Homo sapiens: one gene and its partners. The protein of the gene in region 4 purifies or fractionates together with the protein of the main gene of each other region. This does not show direct contact. Each region holds a gene or a part of one and is shown on either strand. Other genes may lie near its edges.

The links.
Region 1: the proteins of SPATA7 (region 4) and CCNYL1 purify together in Homo sapiens (affinity purification with mass spectrometry; one large-scale study listed by BioGRID and IntAct). This does not show direct contact.
Region 2: the proteins of SPATA7 (region 4) and EEPD1 purify together in Homo sapiens (affinity purification with mass spectrometry; one large-scale study listed by BioGRID and IntAct). This does not show direct contact.
Region 3: the proteins of SPATA7 (region 4) and C1orf21 purify together in Homo sapiens (affinity purification with mass spectrometry; one large-scale study listed by BioGRID and IntAct). This does not show direct contact.

Annotation. Positions count from the first base shown.
Region 1 is NC_000002.12:207,749,105-207,753,592, reverse strand, and holds part of CCNYL1 (cyclin-Y-like protein 1), read right to left. Parts: intron 2,637-4,488; coding exon 2,474-2,636; intron 6-2,473; coding exon 1-5. UniProt on the Homo sapiens protein: Key regulator of Wnt signaling implicated in various biological processes including male fertility, embryonic neurogenesis and cortex development. Activates the cyclin-dependent kinase CDK16, and promotes sperm maturation.
Region 2 is NC_000007.14:36,299,146-36,303,026, reverse strand, and holds the end of EEPD1 (endonuclease/exonuclease/phosphatase family domain-containing protein 1), read right to left. Parts: coding exon 3,821-3,881; 3' UTR 1,489-3,820; downstream 1-1,488.
Region 3 is NC_000001.11:184,505,305-184,509,792, forward strand, and holds part of C1orf21 (uncharacterized protein C1orf21), read left to right. Parts: intron 1-2,283; coding exon 2,284-2,378; intron 2,379-4,488.
Region 4 is NC_000014.9:88,387,942-88,392,429, reverse strand, and holds part of SPATA7 (spermatogenesis-associated protein 7), read right to left. Parts: intron 1,050-4,488; coding exon 975-1,049; intron 1-974. UniProt on the Homo sapiens protein: Involved in the maintenance of both rod and cone photoreceptor cells.

The DNA of each region.
Region 1 (4,488 bases), on a different chromosome or scaffold from region 4:
ATAGCCTAGGAAAGTCAATCAAATAGAAAACAGGTACAATTTTAAAAAGGGTTCCCGCCTTTGAAAGAGCACCATTGTGAAAGCCACACATGTGGACTCCTTTAGATAGTTCACAGTTACAGCTACTTTGGCTGAGTTTTACACTGCCAGGTTGTGGGGACACTACTTCCTGACAGTTCACCAAGGTAATATCCTTTAAGGGCTATGGTTAGATTCCCAGAGAACAAAGGGGAATTTATTATATTATTAAAAAACTGGATTCCCAAAGATATCAAAGGTATTGTGATAGGGCTCCTAACAGCAATAGCATCTGTTATCTGTTAACTTATTCCTTAAATATAACAAACGTACACTTGTGCAAAAAAATGTTTATTCAGCTATTCAAATTCTACCCAATCCTTATTAGCTATTATATACTCAAAGCACATTTTAATGAGGCAGGTGTGTGCTGGACTATACTGGAACATATGAGCGGTCTGATGACTGACGCGCCAAAAGGTATTACTTCACATGCACGTTAATTATGGTAGAAATACATATTATTATTTTTTTCTTTTTTTTTTTTGAGGCAGAGTTTCGCTCGTTGCCCAGGCTGGAGTGATCTCAGCTCATTGCAACCTCTATCTCCCAGGTTCAAGCGATTCTCCTGCCTCAGCCTCCCAAGTAGCTAGGATTACAGGCATGTGCCACCATACCCAGCTAATTTTTTGTATTTTTAGTAGAGACAGGGTTTCACCATGTTGGCCAGGCTGGTCTCAAACTCCTGACCTCAGGTGATCCCGCCTGCCTCGGCCTCCCAAAGTGCTGGGAGGAATGAGCCTCTGAGGCATGAGCCACTCTCAGGCATGTGCCACTGAGCCCAGCCTAGAAATACATATTATTCTAAAGTACCACCAAGGTACCACAGAAAGTGTTAGTTTAAAATATGTGTCCATTTCAGTTGTAATTCTGCTGTATACTCACCAAGAGTCATAAGCCATAAATATTACTTTGCCCCATAAAGTTACCATTTCTATTAAAAACCCATGTACTTCCTACATTATTATTTTTTTTTTTTTGAGACAAGGGTCTTGCTCTATCGCCCAGGCTGGAGTGCAGTGGCATGATCTCGGCTCACTGCAGCCTCCGCCTCCCGGGTTCAAGCAATTCTCATGCCTCAGCCTCCTGAGTAACTGGGCGTCTGCCACCACGCCCGGCTAATTTTTGAATTTTTAGTAGAGACCGGGTTTCTCTGTGTTGGTAAGGCTGGTCTTGAAGTCCTGATCTCAAGTGATCCACCTGCCTCGGCCTCCCAAAATGCTGGAATTACAGGTGTGAGCCACCATGCCTACCACTTACATCCAGCATTTGAAACACCTGCATCCTATACAGTGAAGGGTATAGGTCTCTTGGCTTATCCACTAATCCTTTGTCTAAAAAACTCATGGGACTGCACTGTGATACATAAACCATGACATGAATTTGCAAACAGTAAGTAAGACAGTCAAGAGTGGCAAGTGAATTATGTATGTAGATAAAATTAGGAATACAGTCGCAAAGAAAAAATTTTTTTTTTTTGGAGACACAATCTCACTCCGTCACCTAGGCTAGAGTGCAGCGGTGCAATCTTGGCTCACTGCAACCTCCGCCTCCCAGGTTCAAGCGATGCTCATGCCTCAGCCTCCCAAGTAGCTGGGATTACAGGCATGCACCCCCATGCCTGTATTTTTGTGTGTGTGTACTTTTTTTTTTTTTTTTTGAGATGGAGTTTCGCTCTTGTTGCCCAGGCTGGAGTGCAATGGCACGATTTCAGCTCACCACAACCTCCGCCTCCCGGGTTCAAGCGATTCTCCTGCCTCAGCCTCCCGAGTAGCTGGGATTACAGGCATGCGCCACCACGGCCGGCTAATTTTGTATTTTTAGTAGAGACGGGGTTTCTCCATGTTGGTCAGGCTGGTCTTGAACTCCCAACCTCAGGTGATCTGCCCTCCTCGGCCTCCCAAAGTGCTGGGCTTACAGGCGTAAGCCACCGCGCCCGGCCTGTGTGTGTATTTTTAGTAGGGACAGGGTTTCACCATGTTCGCCAGGCTGGTCTTGAACTCCTGACCTCAAGTGATCTGCCCACCTCAGCCTCCCAAAGTGCTGGGATTACAGACATGAGCCACAGTGCCCAGCTAAAAAAATTATTCATGTATGGTTATGTGAAAGGGTAGAAGTTCAAAAGGAAACCTCATTAACAACAGATTAAATTTGATTTAAAATATTCTGAATTATGGTCACAGAAGAGTTAATATGTATAATTTTTAAATAATGTTGATCCTTGTATAAACCATACAAGACACAGGAAATCTGACGCCAAAGGGCTAATAAGCTCTTCAGTGTTAGTTAATTTTAAAGCTTTCCATTTTCCTAATCACTACTTAATATGATTTAGTCACAGATGTTGGCTTTGGTGGCTGATGGAAAACCTCACTTAGTGACTTCATAGCCTTACCTCTAGGTTCTGTGCTCTTTCTTTGCTAAGAGGAGCAAATAGAAAATTCAGGTTGTTGTCATCTGCTAAGGAGCGAAGGTCAAAGTAGTATTTGGCATAAACACTGGCAGGAACATTAATATTAAACTGAAGAAGCTCCAGAAAATGCCTTTCCATTTCATTCCTGGAGGAGGAAGAACACAACAGAACCAGCACAGGACAATGTCAGTCAACTGGGCTATCTTCAAAAATATCATTCTAAGAGACTAGAATGGCTCTAAACTCTATTTTAAAATATAGGCTACCCAGTTGTATTAACATACTAATGTTCACATAAGGTACAGTTACTTGTGGTCCCTTCTGCATCCCAGCACTCTGGAACTGGGATGAAGGTTGAAGGTTACGGCCTCCGATGCACTTGTGCTGCTGACTCGGGCCTCATTCTTCAGAGTTCCATTAGTGCAGCTGTACAATTCATACTTCACGCTCACTCACAAGGCCCCACTATAGTGATCAGATGAAAGGAATGATGTATGCTGTTTATTAGCTCTGAAGAACTTGCAGACATTTTCACCAGGCTGATAACAGGAAGGGGCTTATTGAAGTAGAGAAGCACCAACAAAAGGAGTAGGCATATCACCACGGCAACAAATGGATCCATCAAGAGCCACTGCTATTATCTCTGAGGGGGAAAAACTCTTGAGGCAACAAGGATTCATCTCAAATAAATAAATAAGCAAGCTACATTACAGGGGAAGGGAATCCCCTCCCCCTGTCCCGGCGCATGAGGCTATGTCAAAGGGCATAATGCAAGTTTCTGCTCACTTTAATATTATGAAGGTGAGAAATTGTCACTATGACAGGGTGAGGATACTCTTTAAACTTTGGAAGGCAGAAAGATCAAAGGTGGATGTCTTGGCTAGACTAAACCCATTTTATGATATGACTTATGGTAGGTCACTGGACTTAAAAACTCAGTGTTTCTTCTGAGTTGGGAATGAAACCCTGAGGTGCTCAGTATCTACCGTCCTGGTCAGAACAGAATGTAGGAGTGAGCTGAATGCAATGGGAGAGGAAAGGGCTGGGAGTAGTAGTCGGCTACATGACCACACAGCTGCCCTTGCCAAATGCTTAAGCAAATAAACATAAAACTAGAGAAAATCTTAACCACTTTCACAGTAATCCCTATAAGGAGTTAACTGTATAAAAATGATAAATACCTAAACAACATATTTGGTTTCTTGGTTTCAAAGTTTTAATATTTTATCCACTGGGTAAGTCAACAAATGCTTGATGATCTCCTGTATGGAGAGCAGTTAATATGAGCAGAGATGTGGTTTTCTCATTTGCTGAGCTTAAAAACCCAACTGAACCTACTTCCAAAATTAATTTCCTGTTCATATGTCCATAAGCCTATAGAAATGTAAATCAGATAATGTTTTGATAATCAGCTAACCAGGACTTAATTTACTACAGCAATAAATGCACTTCACAATCCCTTTTATATTTTTTCCACTAATACATTTTAACTGTGTAGAAATATAGTACTTCATAGGATTAACACACATATTAATAGAGGTTTAATCACTGAAGAAAAGCATTATGCTTACAGAATATGCATCTTCTAGGTTTTTTGTTTTTTTTTAAATGGCTAGGTGGCTGAATAGCATACCCTTTACAGGCACAGCAAACCGTCTGAATAGCAGCTGCTCAGTTTAACTTATTCTTTTAAAGGGAAATATATTCTAACAGGACATGTAGCTGTTGAAAATTTTTAAGAAAAACCTGATAGACACCAATTTAAAATTGTTTCAATTTAGACTCAAAATGAGACCACTACAAATAGTCAACAGCAGGGGGATGAGACAAATGTATATTAAACAGTTTGTTGAAATGCTTTCCAAAGATCATAAACAAAAGCAGCCTGTTTGTAGCATAGCTCCTGGTGCTTCCCTGGGCATACACAAACAGCACTATTTAGAACTGGTCTTCTTGGAGCTGGCCCCTGCCACCACTGCTCCTGAAGCTTACATCTG
Region 2 (3,881 bases), on a different chromosome or scaffold from region 4:
CATGGGTTATTTGAAACTGTATGCTAAGTTTAAGACCCGTGAGTGCTGTTCAAGTCATTAATTCCTCTCCCCAGAAAACAAACCCTGTAGCTGTCTCAGGTGAGATTCACTTAAGGTGGAGACTTAAGCCACGCTGGGCAGAACCGAAAACCCAGGTGTTAGGATTCTCACCCATTCCAGAGGGCAATGTTATCTGCACTGAGGAGAATTCTGATGTCAGAACCAAAGAAACACAAAGAAGAAAATAGCATCCCCTTGACTTTGAAAGAAAGCAGCCCTTTAGGAAAGGCCAAGCCCGTGTCCTCCCTTGCAGTCCCTAGAGCAGCCATGAGGGAGTCAAAGCTTGGGCCTAGTTATTTGAGGCCCAGGAGGGCTTCCCGCCTCTAGTCAGTCACCCCTGCAGTGCCGGCAGAGCTGATAGAGATGGCTGGGTCCCCACCCCTGCATAGAAAGAGCCATCTCTGATCTGTGGTAGACAATGGGCAGGAGAGGAGAGAGGTTCCATTGGGGCGTGGAAGGGACAGTTGGCTGCCTGCGGTTCTCCTATGATAGGGAGAGCAGGGAGAATGCCGTGGGCTCCTAGTCAGCGCCTGTGGGACTGGAAGAGCTTTTCTTGTACTTAATCCCTTCTTCCCCTCCCAGCCCCGGTTCAGCAGCAGGGGACTTCCCTTGGCTTCTCCAACAAAGTCCTTCGCAGTTAGGCCCCTTCTCAGACAATCTTGGAAGATGGAGAAGCAAGAAAAGAATGGAGAGGGAGAATGGAAGAGGTGGACTCAGAAATGCCGCATTTGTGGGTGGAGCTGGGGCTGGGGTGAGAGGAAGCTCCGGGGAAGGCACAGAAACAATCCAAGGGAGGCAGGTCAATTCCACACAGCGGAACATGACTCAGCAGGAAAAAGAAAGGAGCTATCAGACCATAGAAAGACACAGAGCAACCTTAAATGCATGTGGCTAGGGGTAGAAGCTCACGTGAACAGGCTGCATACTCTATAATTCCAACCAAACGACACCCTGGAAAAGACAAAACTATGGAGATGGTGAAAAGAGCAGTGACTGTCACGGGTTAGGGGGAGGGAGGCATGGGTGAATAGATGGAGAACAAGGGTATTTTTTTTTAGACAGAGTTTCGCTCTTGTTGCCCAGGCTGGAGTACAATGGCATGATCTCAGCTCACTGCAACCTCTACCTCCCAGGTTCAAGCAATTCTCGTGCTTCAGCCTCCCAAGTAGCTGCGAATACAGGCATGCGCCACCACATCTGGCTAAATTTTGTACTTTTAGTAGAGATGGGGTTTCACCATGTTGGTCAAGCTGGTCTCGAACTCCTGACCTCAAATGATCTGCCCGCCTCCACCTCCCAAAGTGCTGGGATTACGGGCTCGAGCCACCATGCCCCACCACAAGGGCATTTTTACATCAGAGGAACTATTCTGAATGATTCTGTAGCATGGTGATACATGTCATTCTACATTTGTCAAAACCCATAGGATGCACAACACAAAGAGTGAACTTTAATATAAACTATGAACACTGTAGCTAATAATGAATACAAGTTCATCAGTTGTAACAAAGTGCCATGCTAATGCAACATGCTAATTAGAGGGGGAAATATGCAAAGAAGAGGAGGGATATGGGAATCCCTTTGTGCCTAATTTTTCTGTAAACATAAAACTGCTCTTACAAATAAAGCCTATTAATTAAAACAACAAAATACAAAACAACAACTAAAACCAAAAACAGCCAACACCCAATGGGTTGAGCTGGAGTAAGAACAGGCTGCCCAGCACACTTCCTGGGCCACTGAGCCCTGGGCGTGAAAAGCAAAAGGGCCAGTGAGGTTTGGCTGGGACTCAGCTCCCCAGCCTCTGGCTCAAGCCCGATTACGAACACAAAGGTCATCTGATTGGATTTCCTGTCCCCTCAGCTCACTTAAGGAGGCTTTTCTGTCCACAGCTTTGGTTGCAAAAAGCAATCTGGCTAAAGGGATTTGGGACATCCGGCTGGTGAATGTAGGGGAGGTTTCACCTTTAGATGAGGCACCAGAAACGATGTGCTCCCTGGTAGCATCCTGAGCTGCCCCTCTTGACTTTAATGCTAACCCTGCTGCTTTTCCTCAAGGCTCAGACATCCCATTTCGATGCTTCCAGAAGCACAGCCTGAACCCAGGGACAGGAGCTGCCGCCCTCCCACTGGAGAGACCTCAGAATGGACACAATTGATTCCCAAGTACCCTTAGAGCTCCTGGAAGAGGGTTCCCTTCCCGTCCCCAAGACCAGCGATGCTTCTTGGAGCCAGGTGGCCCCAAAAGGATGGCCTTTGGAGAAAAATAGGCCCCCTTCACGGCCCATCAGCTCCAGGTCAGAGAAGCCACTGGGTTTACACTGCGTGGGGACAGGAGGGTTCTTGATACTGGTCCACATTTAGTGTTCGGTGTGGAAAGCGGAATAAGTCCTCAGCTTCCATGGGATACTGGAATAATCTAGGTAATCTAAGCTCATAACTTACCTTTTCACTATTTACTTTCATATTTTTCCATTCATGTTAAGCATAAAGTTGAAATGTGAGCACATAGCAAAACCTGAGTCTGCATCCCTCTATTTACCCAGTGGTGTGACCTTGAGGAGGTCGAGCTCTCTAAGCCTCAGCGTCTTCAGCTGTGAAACGCAAATTGTGGCAGATCTCCCTGGGATGGTGTTGCCTAAGGGAAATCCCTCCTGGCTTGGGCTCGGGGATGCAGATGCCTAGTGGCAGGCACGCATCCTCGCTTCCTCCCCACAACCTCTCTCCAGCCCCACAACCAACTGTCCCTACCTCCAGCCACTAGGAGGGACACTCTCCATGATACCCCGAGGTCAACTTCCTATGTATCCTGACACAGCACACATTCCTGATAGTCAACCACAGGAGGCTCCGGGCTAAAAACTGGAGTGAGTGGGGAGGAGGGAGGAGGTGATACCACCCTGAGAGAATTCTTGTCCTGCAAAGAGAACTAAACAAATAGTGCTCCAGGCAAAAGCCAGGCTGGTGAAGGAGGCAGGGGATGAAGGAGGGGCTGGGAAGGGGAGATGACAGAGAGGCTTCACAGAGGTCCCGGCGAGCTGATGGGGCCTTGAGAGGCGCCTCTGCAAGGCCTCAAGGTGGGGACATAAAAGGCGCAGGGGAAGTGAAGCTGCTCAGGGCTTGACCCTAGCTCCACACAGAGGCACCTGCCGTGGTGCAAATACACACTGCGCGTTGGGGGGCGGGGGAAGGGGGCGGGGGAGGGCTGTGGCGGACTTGTCCCATGCTCTCACTGCAGCGAGGCAGGTTAATCTGTTTATTTTTTCAAAACAAAACTAAAAATCGCCACTCAATGTATCTGAGCAGAGTGCCTGATCACAGTTAAAAGCTTTCTGTAATGCGCAGCAGGAACGTCATAGCCTGGTGGTCAGAAATGAGTGCTTCTGGCGCTGCTGGACTGTGGCCCGCAGCCTGAGCACCCCTTCTTCTCCTCCCTCTGCTCATATTGTCTTTGTGCTGCCATCCAGTCAGCAGCGGACAGCCAGCCCAATGCTGCTCAGGTCTGTGGCATCCAGAGATAAAAGGCGTCTCCGCTCCCCGCAGGTTTCTGCTTTGCCCACCTGGTGGGGTACGCGCCTGGCACGCCACCCCCACTGGAGGTCCTGAATGGTCCACAGAGAAGGCGTGGGGCAAGGCCTCAAGTGCTGATGCTCTGAGAATAAAAATTAAAAGGCAGCTCTGCCCTGAAGCGTCACCCCACAGGGCTCATTCCTTGGCTGTGCCCTCCTGGGTCCCAGGGTGGACACATGGATTTGGTGTCATCATCGCTCGTGCTTGATGTTGGCTTCACTTCGCTCCAAGGCCACCCCGCTGCCGTTCCGA
Region 3 (4,488 bases), on a different chromosome or scaffold from region 4:
AAATATATATATATATATATATATATATATATATATACACACATGCCATATATATATAGACATGTATATATTCACCTATATATATTTATATCAGTGTTCTGTGTATTTAAATAATTAGAAACTCACCATTAGCAATTAAGTTCACAATTTAGTTCAGTTAAAGTTTATTAATAGTAGGCCAGGCATGATGGCTCACGCCTGTAATCTCAGTACTTTGGGAGGCCGAGGCAGATGGATCACCTGAGGTCAGGAGTTCGAGACCACCCTGGCCAACATGGTAAAACCCGTCTCTACTAAAAATACAAAAAATTAGCCAGGCATGGTAGCAGGCGCCTGTAATCCCAGCTAGTTAGGAGGCTGAGGCAGGAGAATTGCTTGAACCCGGGAGGCGGAGGTTGCAGTGAGCCGAGATCACACCATCACACTCCAGCCTGGGCAGTAGAATGAAACTCTGTCTGAAAAAACAAACAAACAAAAAAATTATTAAGAGTAATTATCTCAGTCTGCCAGGATTTATAAATATTAATGTCCCAAACTGAAGTTAGGGAGGCCCATTTTTACCTTTTTTTTTTACCTTTTATTTTTATCTCTGTGTAATTGTGTTGGGGGCAAATTTGTCAGTGTCTTCTCTTTTTTAATTAGCAATTGTTTTTCCAAATTCTCAGTAAATAATCCTTCATCAAATTTGTCAGTATTATTAATTTACATTCATTTTTGTCTCTTCGAAATACCAAGTTGGTATGTAGAATTCTTTTGTATTGTAATTGTGGATCAGAATCTGCTGATTAACTTGTTAATATATTTAGGACCTGGTATTCCTAAAGGGCTCATTACTGAACCTCACACTAGTCTTTCTAATATCTTTACAAAAAAATAGAATCAATAATAACTCTAAATTGTCAGGTGGAAAAAACAGTTGGCTTAGTGAACATGAAGTCTTTATTCAGATACATGCAAATGTATTACATTCTTAAGAATGATAATTTTGAGAAACATTTGAACAGCATAATTACTTGCAGAAATATTACTGTAACGAACATCTTTGGGAGTTGTGTGTTAAGGGGTGATATGATGAGGAAACCTGAAACTATATTAGAAAGTGGTGTTATAGATACTAAGATAAGAAATTAAATAAGAGTATAGTCTTTTTACCCATTTAATCATAGTTAATAAGAAAATATATTGCAACTTTCTGAACTGAAATATAAACTCTCTTAGTGATAGACAGCTGTCTTTCAGGTGGTTCCTATAGTTAGACATTACTTCATGCTATATGCCAGACAATCGTTAGTTTGTTGGTTGATGATATTTTCTAATTTCACAATTTCTGTGATGTTTCCCACAGATTGGGTTAAGAATGATTCAGAGTCACACCTATTTTTGACTTTAGTGCGCTCAAATCATTTCCTGTTGACAGGAATCTGATGGAAATGTCATCATAGTGATCAGTCTTCTGGAGAACTGAAGCTGCAAGTTTTCCTGAGTTTGTTCTATGGTGTATATTGATACTGGGATCTGTGTTCTCTGTCTGGCTGTTGCGGAGGCTAGGTCCCATCCACATCCCACTATACTCTCCAGCCTTGACTGATGTACCTACCATTTCATCTGTTAGGTATAATAGCTCTTCATGCATATGACTTTACAGAGAGATTGAATTAAAGTGTATATATACATATATATGAAATAAATATATATATGAAATAAATATATATATTAATGTGAAATAATTGCAGACTGCTAAAATTTAATATAGGGATCACAGAAAGAAAAGTCTCAATTCTTCAGTTGTTTCTATTTATCAATATAACTCTTTAGTCTTACTCTGTTTTTTCAAAAGGGAAATTAAAGAATGAATATGTCACTGAAAATTGTTGGCACAGGCATTTTGGACTAATACTCTCTTGGAGAAAAATAAGAATATTCTCTTGAATCTTATCAGACAGTTCTGTGATATGTCCTAGTGTAACATACATTTCAAAAAGTCTTTAGAGATGGAGTATCCTGTTTCCTCTGCAGCATTTGCTCTCTGTGGAAGGACCAGGCAGTGACACTTTGATTAGAAGCATTCGTGATGCTGAGCTTTTTCTAGTAGACAGAGGAGAGGGGCTCATAAAAAGATCTAAGATGCCTAGTTAAGCTTCTTCCAGATTGTTCCAAATGAACCACATATGAAGGCCACAGGTGAAAGGGTCTAGCAAATTACACTATTGGGATTTTCTGACTGACACTTTTCTACTATTGGGAAAAAAATTATAAAATGTGTTTTCTTTTTTTGGCACTCAGATGAGTATAGGATCAAACCAGTGGAAGAGGTCAAATACATGAAAAATGGGGCAGAAGAAGAGCAGAAAATAGCAGCCAGGAACCAAGAAAACTTGGTAAGAATTGATTTTCTCACTTAACAATGAATTTTGGTGACACTATTGTAATAAAATCTGCACTGCATGTTTTAACTGCAACTTACACACTGGCACAAGATTTCTTGAAAATGCTGCAGCTATTTATAGCTTGCCTGGAAGCTGCACCATTACTCCTGTATCCTGTTTGTCTCTGAATAAGCCCTTCTTTAATCTTGATGGGGAATGCTCCATAAAATATAGCAAAATTATTCGTGTTTTAAAATAGCTAAATTTAAGGGAAAAATAATGAAGTAGGATTGAGGTTTGTGAGGGGAGGATTGTTTTAGTTTTGTTTTTTTCTACCTCTTCTAACTCATATCCAAATCAGGATGAATGGTTGTTTCATTATTCTAGACATGTAATGTTGACAAAGTTGCTTTTCAAAGGAATCAAAGGTCATTTTCAAAGGAAAAGCAACTTACTTCAAGATAAGTCTTTCTCCAGAGAGTCAGTACTTCACATTCACAATATTAAGGGTATTGTGGGTTTTGAGTTTATGTGAGAATTGTGAAGATCTGAAACAGGAAGTTAGGAATCCCTTTTTTGAGTAGGAATCAGTATACACATTCCATCTTAACATCCCATATCTATAAAAACATTTAGCTAATTATAATATAGATGATTTCTTAAAAGCAGTTACAAATTGTTAAGAATATGTATTTAGTTGTATTGGAGCAAAATTGTTTTTGTTGTTTATATTTTATTTTTTGATTACCTATATTTGCTTTTTTCATAACTGAGTTAAAAAGGTATTTTTAAGAAGCTCTCAATGTCATATAATACTTTCACTTGACTTAAACTCGTTTTTTTATAATGTGCTTTGTTTTTGTTTTAATGACTTCTGCTACAGCAGAGGAATTTGGCAGAATATTAAGCAGTGCACAGGAGTATTTAGGGCTGTTATTTTCCATTACACATTTGTGAATATTGGAGGCTGATTCTTTCCCCTAATTCTTTTCTGAATATATGATCTATAACTTGAAATACTGAAGTATCAACAAGTGAATATTTTAGATCATTTTCAAGGAATGAAAATATACTCTAGATAATGAAGTTTTGCTTCATAAATGGGATTTGGATTTTAAAGTATCACTTAAGACACAGAGATTCATCATATCTAGAGTGATAATGTATTTTAACATTAACACTTAAATCCAGGAAAGTAGCTATGACTAAATACTAAAAGTTAATATTACCATACTGCCTACATGGTGTTTATTTTGTTTTGAATGGATAAATCGAAGACCTGAGTATTGAAATATCAGTAGTCATTTTTCTACTTTATTTTACTAAACAACAGAGTTTGTACTTGCTTGATATAGTTTCAGCTTGAGTTATCAATCTCATCCTTAATAATAATATTTACTGTAGAGGCTAGAGAGCTACTTGTGAGTAGTCTGGCAGTGGTTTCTCCTTAAATCTACTAATGTGTGTCTCTGCTTCACATGCTTATGTCTCTAGAACCAAAGAAGCAACACCTTGTATAGTTTGTGAGTTTTTTCTCAGTGTGCTTTCATCATCATATTTAGGACCAGTATAACTTTTTTCCTTCTCTCGCAGTTTTGCAATCTGTCAACTACTTGGTACTTGGTGTATTCTTTTTCAGCATTGTGGTCAGAATCAGACTGAATAGGAATTTGAAAAGAGAAAAATATTTGGTCATTCTGATTTATTTGTGGATTATCTGTGACAAGCCTCGCCCCTTTGCTCTGCCAGCCAGCCAGAGTCCAGGATCCCAGTACACTTCAAGTGTGTAAAGGTTTGCATGGTGAATGGGGAGTAAATAGCTATCTTTGATCTGAAATTTCTAGACTGTTTTCCAAAATTAAGTGACTGTTCAGTTATTTGGTAATTTGTTGTCTTTGTTACCTACTCCATCCTTTGGGGAACATAATCAAGTATTGACCATACACATCATTTGAAAAAATACCAATAGCCTCCTAAACTTGAAGCTTAACATTGGAAGGTGGATAAAATAGATTTAACAATTCTTTTTTTAAATAAAAAACACTCTTTAAAATAAGTATCGAGAAGTTCTTGATACTTATTTTACGAATGATACTAAGATGTAGGTTACAGTGTTTTTTAA
Region 4 (4,488 bases):
GAAAACTGAGGCACAGAGATATGAGTTACATCTTCAAGGTTACACTGCTGATAAAGGATGCAGCTTCCATGTGATCCAAGGCAGCCTCATACTTAAAACCACCATACCTATACCAGCTCTATATATATATTCTTTAAAAGAAAGTTAGCAAACTTTACATATTGTTCTTTATCCTGATTTCTATGTATGTATATTTTAAATCTAGTTTTAACTTTTTATTTAAAATTTAGTTTTTAAAGTTTATCATTATGGCTATGTTACATACATATATATGTTACATACATACATAGCCACAATCATAAACTTTAAAAAATACACTGTAATACAAAGAAATAAGTGAGGCAACTGAAAATGAGATCCTTCCACCACATTTGGAGGTAACAGTATCAAAGATTTTTCCTGTAAATAAGGAAAATAAGGCTTTAATTATTTTGCCTAAGGACATAGACTTATACTTCTAAGGTATAATTACAAAAATTTATTTTAAAACCTACCTTAAAAATGTACCTTGAAAGCTTTAAAATATAAAAATATCACAGCACCTAGAAATCCAGTTGGATAAAGAGGCCCATAGGCCTTTGCTCCTAATAGGAAATGTATTATTCAAGTGCTCTTTTTCTCTGCACAGCTTTTCCTTTTCAGTGCTTGCGTCTTTAATACCTGCTACTCACCATTTTAACAAGGCAGGTATGCCTTAAATCAGGGTAGTTTCCTGGCAAAAGTAGAGCTGGGCTGCTGTAGCAGCTGGGAGCAGGAGACAGCCAAGTCCACATCCAGGGCACAATAATAGTTTGAAATCATAGACTCCAAAATTCTCTAATCTCAAGAACGCCTATATTTCATTAAAATTAATAATATGAAGTTCAAATATTCGTCAAATGAAACAATTTTTCCATCATGTCATATAATTTGCCAGTAAAGGAAACACTCAGACAATCTTCTAACAAAGCTGCCGTTTTAAGCACCTCACTTACCATTACTTTTGGTGCTCAAGTGTCCTTTAAATAGGCACGGTGGACCATATCTGGGAAGGACAGAGGTTGCTCTGACTTTTAACAAGAAAAAAAAATCATAAATTAGGATAAATGAAACACAACTTTTACAAAAACAACAATATTCAATATTTTTTAAATAATAAATTTATCACAAAATAATTTCTTTCCTAAAAGGTGATTGCGTTTTTAGTAGTAATCTCCAAAACAGGAAGTCTGAGTTACAGCATTAAATGTAATTTAATATGCAAAATATAAATGCTTTATCCCCCAAACAGAGATGTTTTAAGAGGGTAAGATGGCTAGTTTGCTATCAGGTGGGCTGTTAAAAGCTATAACAAGGAGGACACATAGAAAGTCTAGAAGATATATGGATGACTAAATATAGAAAAAAGAAGTATCGAGCTAGGAGAACTAAAATCTAAGACCAGAGAACAAAGCTTGTCAGAATAGATTAAAACAGAAAAACAAACTGAGGTCAGAATATCTATGAAGCTCTTTCTATGTCACAGGTCAGAGTGCAGGAAGGAAAAAAATATTTAGGACAATACAAGTCAAGGTGATGCCATCTGAACTGGGAAAAAAGATAGTCATGAAATGAGCATAGCTTCTACCAAGAAAGAAGGAGGGTAAGACCTAAACATAAGAAAAAATACCAACAAACTCTCAGAAAAACCTCATTTCTCCAGATAGAAAGAACTGTGACTTTTTTCTTGTCCAGAATTCAATGCCTCTTCACCTGGAAATGACAACTCAACTTTCCTTTGGGCGACTCTTCCCTTACTCTTAGCCCAGGTGGTTCAAATAGAGCTGACCCCACTGTCAGGGTTAGGCATAAAACCCAAATGTGGACAGCTGTGTTGACAGCGTCAGCAATGCTATGCGATCCAAGTCCCAACATGAGATACACAATCCTGGGCCTTTGACAGGAACTATTAGGAAAGGTACTTTCATTTCACTGGGCTTGCTAAACCCAGTGAAGGGTCTAAGCAAGCCCTGTATTGCTGGTGGCCATCCTGAACCTTATAAAGGAACCTGTCTGAGAATGAAGCCTACACAGTCAAGTGGAACCAAGATAGAAAGCGATTTCTTGGTGACATCATTTGAGTACCTGAGGCCAACCATGTTTGAAGCTCTTCCTTCCCTAGACGTTTCTTTACATTAGCCAAAAAAAAAAAAAAATTCCCATTTTAGCTTAAACCAGTATGAGTTGATTTCTTCATTTGTAGTCAAAAGGCTAATTTATTGAGTGGTAACCCTGCCAGGCAGTGCTCCAAGCACTTTGCTGGTATAAATTCATTTAATCCTTACAATACTATAATTCTCCCTACTTTATAGATGAGGGTAATTGAAGCACAGAGGTTAAACTTGTAATTTGCCAAAGATTACACAAGAATGTGACAGATTTGGGATCTGAACCCAAGCAGTCTGTTTCCTGGGTCTTAATCATTACACTATCTTGACCAATATAAACTGCTCAGTACTTGAACCATGTTCTAAGCTACTAAATCATGTGAAACAGACCAAGAAGATATCTCAGCTGTATGTAGTTTATTCCCTCCAAATTCCATTCTATTCTATGTATGTTTCACTATAGGTCACAGAAAAAGGAAAAACAGGTATACCCAGAGAAGTGTGAAAGGATGAAAAGAGAATGAAAAAAGGCTGGAACCTAGTGATAATGCTCTGGATAGAAATGCTTCCCCACCCATCTGTAAGTGACAGCTGTGAACAAGGTGGTTAATATTTGGCCCCAGGAATCAATCCAGCTGCTCTTTAGCATAAGATGGTGATAAGAACAAACATGGAATTTAGATGTTCCTTGATGTCTATGTTCCCTTGTCTATTTACCATCAGACGTACACCAAGGCATATACTCATTGGTTTCTAATATTCCTATAGATACATGTCATATTAAAAATGACAGAATTAGGGCTGAGCACAATGGCTCGTGCTTGTAATCCCAGCACTTTGGGAGACTGAGGCAGGCTGATCACCTAAGCCCAGAAGTTCAAAGACCAGCCTGGACAACATGGCGAAACTCTAACTGCACAAAAAAATACAAAATTAGCTGGGTGTGGTGGTGTGTGCCTGTAGTCCCAGCTACACAGGAGGCTGAGATGGGAGGATGATTGAGCCCAGGAGGCTGCAATGCACTCCAGTCTGGGTAACAGAATAAGACCCTGTCTCGAAAAAAGAAAAAAGAAAGAGAAAGGAAAAAAAAAAACCTAACAGAATTGAGGGGAGAAATAAGACGATTTAATTCATCTACCCTCTCATAGTTTCTGGTTCCTCCTTTGTGTCCTGTGTATAGGTCACATTTTCCTGTTTTTTTGTTTTTGTTTTTTTGCATGACTTGCAATTTCTTTTTGTTGAAAAGTTAACATTTTAGGTAATATATTGCAGCAACTCTAGATACAGAATCCTCTCCTGAGCTTGTTTTCATTGTTGTTCACTTGTTTGTTTAGTGACTTGGCTAAGCAATTTATCAAAGTCTATTTCCCATGGAATGTGAAGCCTCCGATATCACTCCTCGGTGATGAAGCTTTGGGCAAGTGCACAATCACGCCTTCTCTAATGAGGTCTGAACCCCAGTCTTTGGGAGAAACTCTCTTTCAAATTGTCCTTCTTTGAGTACTTTCCCGTAATTCTAGGTACCAAATACAGTTTTCTTATCTTTTTAATTAATTCATTAATTTGTTTTATATACTAGAGACAGGGTCTTGCTATGTTACCCAGGCTGATTACAAACCACTGACCTCAAGTGATGCTCCTGCCTCAGCCTCCTAAAATGCTGAGATTACAGGCATGAGCTGACACGCCCAGCCCCTTACATCTTATAGTTACTCTTTTATGAAAGTATAACAATTCTTTAACTTTTCCTTGTATAAAAATCACTGTATGGTTTCTATCTCCTGACTGGACTGGACCCAGAATGAGCCAAAGGGGCATGGAGAAGTAGCCTCAAACCAAATGCCAAGGAAAAGAACATCATTCTCTAACTATTAGGACTAAAATCTTGTCAATGAGATTGAAGGTCTTAGTGGTGAAATTCACTGGTATATGAGAGCAGCCCATTTTCCTACACAATTTGATTAAAATAGCCAGAAGAAAGTCCAGTGAGGAAAGATGAAAGTGTTTCTTGTGGCAAGGTTTCTCTGGAAAACCAAAGGTTTGGAAATCTACCATTGATAAGTGTCTCTATGAGACCAACAGATCAAAACAATTTTTTTTTTGAGATGGAGTCTTGCTCTGTTGCCCAGGCTGGAGGGCAGTGGCATGATCTTGGCTCACTGCAACCTCCCCCTCCCAGGTTCAAGTGATTCTCCTGCCTTAGCCTCCCGAGTAGCTGGGACTACAGGCGCACGCCACCATGCCTGGCTAATTTTTGTATTTTTTGGTGGAGACAGGGTTTAATTCTGTTGCCCAGGCTGGTCTCAAACTCCTGACCTCAAGTGATCCACCTGCCTCAGCCTCCCAGAGTGCTGGGAAAAAA